Regions from separate parts of the Homo sapiens genome. Here region 2 is linked to region 1. The links come from fine-mapping of genetic effects on gene expression. A gene starts in region 1. The other region holds a variant in brackets. All regions are shown on one strand. Distances are from middle to middle.

Region 1 (2,901 bases):
GACTGCAGGGAGGGCTGGTCCTGAGGAGGAAGCATCTTCAGATACCTAGGTCTTGGGATCTTGGGTGGGGAATAGGCTGCTTGGGGAAGGGCTGAATTGGAAGGAGGAGCTAGAGGTCTGACTGAGGGAATGGAGAGGGGGCCTCAAAAGGAAGCCAGGCAGGCTGCCTTCTTCCCAGCTCCAGAATGGCACCCCCTCTAAAGTCACACTCACCTACGTACATCCTGGAGTGAAACTCCTTCTCCTTTCTGCTTCCACCATTACTCTAATCCTCAAAGGGTTAACCAGCTTTCACACGATTTTCCCATCTCCCAGGTAACTTGGGCAGCTGCTCCGTGCTGGAAATAACTAAAGACCCAGTTTCTCAGTTCGTGCACTTAGCAATGCACCCCAGTAGCCCCTCCAACCCCCAGCAGAGAAGCACAGCCCTTTGGGTAAAAGATGCCTGGGGGTGAGGCTGCAAGTTGGCAGGTGCGGGGGAGGGGCTCCCAGAGAGTAGGGCGGGGGGTTGTGGGGGCGGCAGGGAGAGTGCCCCTTCCCTGGGTCCCTCCACTGGGCCCCGAGGTTCGCCTCGGGGCCGCTGCCCCAGAGACTGGGGGGAAGAGGAAAGAAGTGGTGTGCGGGCAAGCAGGCCGCACACACCTGGCGCCTTGTGGAATGAGAGCTTAATTAATTATTAAACTGAGTTCCCGCGGGAGGGCGCAGGGCCGTGACAGGCAGGGCGGGAATGGCTAGGTGGGGGCTGGGGCTGGGGCAGGGGCAGGGAGGAATTGGGGATGAAGAGTGGGCGCGGGGCGCCGGCCCAACCCCTGGGACCCTGACAGGAAGGAAGGCGACCCTCGGTGGGCGGGGCGGGGGATGTAGCCGTGAGGGGTGGGTTTGCGGGCGCGCTCGGGGACCCCCGGGGTGAGGGCGGGAGAGGAATGCCGGAGGAGGCGGCCGGGGTGAAGGGAAGGGGACCGGGCTGCGAGGTCCCCTCCCCGCGGGGTCTTGATCCCAGAACAGTAGCTGCTTGTCTTCCCAGGACTGGGGGAGGAAGCGGCCGGAGGAGAGGAGGGGGCGCGCGGAGGGAGGGGTCCCATTATTTGGCCTCCTCCGCCCCTACCCCGCTGCTAGGAAGGGGAGTGGGCAACTCGGCCCCCACTTCTGGGGAGGGGGAGGGGGATGCCCAGACAAAAGGAGCTTGTGCCTTTAAGGCGGGGAGTCCGGGAGCCAGCGGGGAGGGGACTTCTGGATCCGGGGTAGAGGGCGGCTGCGCTGGACAGCTCGGGAGGGGGCGAGGGCCGGGCGGACGGCGGACGGCGGACGGCGGGCGGGACGGCCAGGACGCGCGGGCTCGGAGGACCGCGGGACGGCCGGCCGGCCGGCCGGAGCCCGCGGGGGCGGCGGGGCGGGGGCCCAGGGCAGGCGCGGAGCCGGGCCGGCAGGTGAGCGCGCTGAGGGCTAGGGGAAGTGGCCGCTCGGGCTCCCGGTGCGCCAGGATTGGAACGCACCCGAGCGGCTCTCGACAAGAGTTTGTGGGTGGGGGCGCCGAAGCCTTGGACGGGTCGTCTCGGCAGTGTTGCCCGAGGGAGTTGGGGTTGGCAAAGGGAAGTCATGGAGGCAGTGGGATCGAGGACTCCTAGGTCCGGCGCTCGCCACCCCCGTCGCCCGCCGCCTGCCTCCCTCCACGGGGCGAGTTCCAGGCTGGCCCGGAGGCCAGGAGGATCTGGCACGTACTGGGGGAGGGGCTGGCCTGAGTTTTTTGCTGCGGGGCTGTGGGGTGTCTCCGAGTTTGGGGGAGATTCCATTTAGGGGAGAGGAACCGGCCTGGGCAGAGGGAGGGATGCCCTCTGTCTGCGGGAGTCCCTCTCCTTCCCCTCACCCAAAACCTTGGGAATGAAAGGGGTGGGGTCGGCTCCCCACATCCCCCAAGGCCTGCCGCAGGGTGGGCAGGGGAGCTGACTTTATTCAAAGCAGACTCTGGGGCTCGACTGAAAGGCTAGAGGTGGAATCAGGCGTGGGAGCCTCTTTGCCCATATCCTCTCCTTACCAGATTACCCCTGTGAGCTGGAGGGACCTGGTGGGGGTTGCATAGTAAAGGGTGATGTGGGAGCCCTCTGTAATCTTTAGGGAGAGTGAGGACTGGGGATGGGAGAAGGCGGCAGCGGGCACTGGACCGACAGATACAGGCCCTGGGTAGGCTCCTCTACATCTGGAAAGGCCCAGAATTGAAGAATTGAGGCCCATGTCCGAGTATGGTGGGTGGTGCTGGCACTGCTGGGCCCCGCCTGGGCAGTGCCTCTTACCATGAACTTTCTGAAGTCGTTTTTAATCCCCTGGAGCCTCCTTTTGCCAAGGAGGGCAGGGGCAGATGGGCCCTGGGGATGGGATAGACAGGAGGTGGCCAGGAAGGCTTGGCAAGGCAGTGGGCAGAGCCATCCTTAGGGCTGGGCCTTGGCCTTGGCTGGTTCCAAACTCTGGTCTCAGCCTGATCAGGGTTTGGGAGGGACTTGAGGTCTGGGAGGCACTGAGCCTGGGCCTGCCAGGCTGAATGGGACATGGCTGTGGCTGTGGGAGCCGGTGGTATGAAGAACAGCAGATCTGTGAGAGTGCAAATGGACCAACACTCAGGGGAGGAGAAGGTAGAGGCACAAGGCTTAGGAGCCTGACTCTGGGGAGGAGGGAGGTGGTCTGTGCTCCCAGGGCTCATAGTGATGGGTTGCTGGACAAAGTGGGTTGGGGGACCATATAGAGAAATTTTGTGGCTTGGAACAGTGCTCTACCCTGTTTCCTGCCATACCAGTCTGGCATGGGGTGCCAGAAATGTTGGGAGGCCGGCAAGTTCTGCGGGATGGGCAGTGCCTGGAGTGGAGCCCAGGGTGGGATGGTTGCAGTTGGTTGGACAATTACATAGCTCTG
Region 2 (2,901 bases), 29 kb after region 1:
GTTCAAGCGATTCTCCTGCCTCAGCCTATCAAGTATCTGGGATTACAGGCGCCTGCCACTATGCCCGGCTAACATTTTTTTGTATTTTTAGTTGAGATGGGGTTTCGCCATGTTGGACAGGCTGGTCTCGAACTCCTGACCTCAAGTGATCCGCCCGCCTCGTCTTCCTAAAGTGCTGGGATTACAGGCATGAGCCACTGTGCCCAGGTGTATGTTTTATAGATGGGATTTCACCATGTTGCCCAGGCTGGCTACATGCTTTTTAAAATGTACATGTTCTCTCTTGACAATAGTGCTAAAAAGTATTATTCCCATTTCCAGATGGTTCAGAGAGGTTGTGGTTAAAGGAACTTGCCTAAAGTCACAGAATTCGTTTGCAGTTTAAACCCAGTTCAATAAAATGCCAAAGCTTGTGCTTACTATTCCTCAAAGGGATAATGCATGATAATATACAATATACTTTTTTCTCCCAATAATTTTGAAAGATTAGTAAAACAATAGCTCAGGCATTTTCTCTCCCCAACATCCTGCCTTTAAACCAATGAGGGGCCCTAAGTGGCGGCTCACGCCTGTAATCCCAGCACTTTGGGAGGCCGAGGGAGATGGATCACCTGAGATCAGGAGTTCGAGACCAGCCTGGCCAACATGGTGAAACCCTGTCTCTACTAAAAATACAAAAATTAGCCAGGGGTGGTGGTGCACTCCTGTAGTCCCACCTACTCAGGAGGCTGAGGCACAAGAATCACTTGAACAAGGGAGGCGGAGGTTGCAGTGGGCCAAGATCGTAGCACTGCACTACAGCCTGGGCGATAGAGTGAGAATCTGCCTCAAAACAACAATAACAAACAACAACAACAGCAAAACCAATGAGGGAGTAGGTTGATAAAGGGTAAATGGGCTGGGTGTGGTGGCTCACACCTGTAATCCCAGCACTGTGGGAGGCCGAGGTGGGAGGATCACTTGAGCCTGGGAGTTTGACACCAGCCTGGACAACATAGCATGACTCCCTCTCTACAAAAATGTTTTTAAAAAATTAGCCAGGCTTGGTGGTGCATGCCTGTAGTCCCAGCTACTCAGGAGACTGAGGCAAGAAGATCACTTGAGCCCAGGAGTTCGAGGCTGCAGTGAGCTATGATTGCAGCACTGCACTCCAGCCTGGGTGACAGAATGAGATCCTGTTTCCAAGAAAAGAAAAGAAAAGGTGAAACATCAAAAAAGAGGCAGAACTAGGACTCAAACATCTTCTGCTTCCAAGTCTAATTCAAATTTCATTTCATTGATGGGCATGGTGGCTCACGCCTGTAATCCCAGCACTTTGGGAGGCCCAAGTGGGTGGATCACCTGAGGTCAGGAGTTTGAGACCAACCTGGACAAACCAACCTCTACTAAAAATACAAAAATTAGCCAGGTATGGTGGCAGGCACCTGTAATCTCAGCTACTCAGGAGGCTGAGGCAAGAGAATCACTTGAACCTGGGAGGCAGAGGTTGCAGTGAGCTGAGATGGCCCCATTGCACTCCAGGCTGGGTGACAGAGCAAGACTCATCTCAAAAAAAAATTTTTTTTTTCATTTTATCATATCGTGCTTACCCCACCAAGTCTACTTTCTCCCTCTTCCTCTCAGTCTCTTCTCTTGGCTCTTTTTTTTT[C/T]TTCCTGCCTGATAACCATACCCAACCACATCCCAGCCATTCTTTTTTTTTTTTTTGAGACAAAGTGTCACTCTGTTGCCCAAGCTGGAGTGCAGTGGCACGATCTTGGCTCACGCAACCTCCAACTCCCGGCTTCAAGGCCTCTTGAGTAGCTGAGACTACAGGCATGCACCACCATGCCCGGCTAATTTTTGTATTTTTAGTAGAGATGGGGTTTCACTATGTTGGCCAGGCTGGTCTTGAACTCCTGACCTTGTGATCCGCCTGCCTCGGCCTCCCAAAGTGCTAGGATTACAGACATGAGCCACCAAGCCCGGCCTCATCCCAGCCATTCTTTAGGAACTCAGACATATCTTTTTTTCTCCTAGCATGATGCCCACCCCAAGGTACTTACACGTCTTCAACAACACCTTCCGGACAGCTTCGTGGTATCTTGTGTGGCTATTCTGGTGCACGGAATAATTCCCATCTTTTGAGATAATGGGGGGAAGCCTAGTAGGCTCTGGTTCCTTCTGGTCTGAAATTAGAGTAGACTCGTTCTGAGTACTTGGCAAATGACTATTTGATTCTCTGATTCCCTGGTCTCCATGCTAACCAGATGCATAGCAGGGATCTCTCCTAGCCACTCACATCCAATTTTCAGGACCTCAGGAATCCAATCACCATGGCTGTGACAGAGGGGAGGGAGAGAGAACACAGTGATCACAAGACCTCCCTTACCACTCTCTTGCTTCTCCCTGACTCCTGGATTTTAAGAGGCCAACTTCTGGAATCAGGATATTGGACACATACTTAGGGTTAGTCCAAGTGAAAAAGGCCCTTATCTGGGTAGACATTCCTTTCCTGGGATTGGCATATTTGCAGAACTTCAAATGGTCTAATAGTGGAAGTCATGTTTGAGCTAAGTCTTGGAGGAAAAGAAGGAGGTAGGTTACAGTAGAATCAGGAAGAGCATTTCAGACAGCAGAATGACAAGTGTTTAGAAGCATTAGAAAGGCATCAGAGAGCTATTTGATTTGGAGCCTCGAGTGCTGGGTGAAGAGGAGAAGGACAGGAGATGGGGCTGGTAAGGTGGTGTATTATAGTGGCTACCTAGCATTCATTATGTTTGGGAATCACTCCCTATGAAGCAAAACCTGTATCTCACAATAGAGGCTGAATAGACTAGTTCTTCCTTATCCAACCTCTCTTTCAGCAAGGATATGGACAAAGAATTTTGGCTAGGCCAATCAAACACATCCGTTTCAGATTTT

The links.
Region 2: its variant is fine-mapped to the expression of ADCY6 in whole blood (TOPMed, PIP above 0.99).

What each region holds. Positions count from the first base shown.
Region 1 is chr12:48,787,432-48,790,332 of GRCh38, reverse strand. It overlaps ADCY6 (adenylate cyclase 6), which reads left to right and starts at 1,244. Exons shown (of 22, transcript NM_015270.5): 1 at 1,244-1,427. ADCY6-DT (ADCY6 divergent transcript) reads right to left here and starts at 1,186. Exons shown (of 3, transcript NR_110019.1): 1 at 1,106-1,186; 2 at 214-348; 3 at 1-20. RefSeq lists an enhancer at 2,297-2,841.
Region 2 is chr12:48,758,473-48,761,373 of GRCh38, reverse strand. It overlaps SPMIP11 (sperm microtubule inner protein 11), which reads right to left. Exons shown (of 4, transcript NM_001351123.2): 2 at 2,043-2,165. Among named protein-coding and RNA genes, the nearest start is that of MIR4701, 12 kb to the left of the region's middle. The variant C/T (reference allele first, on the strand shown) is at 1,649.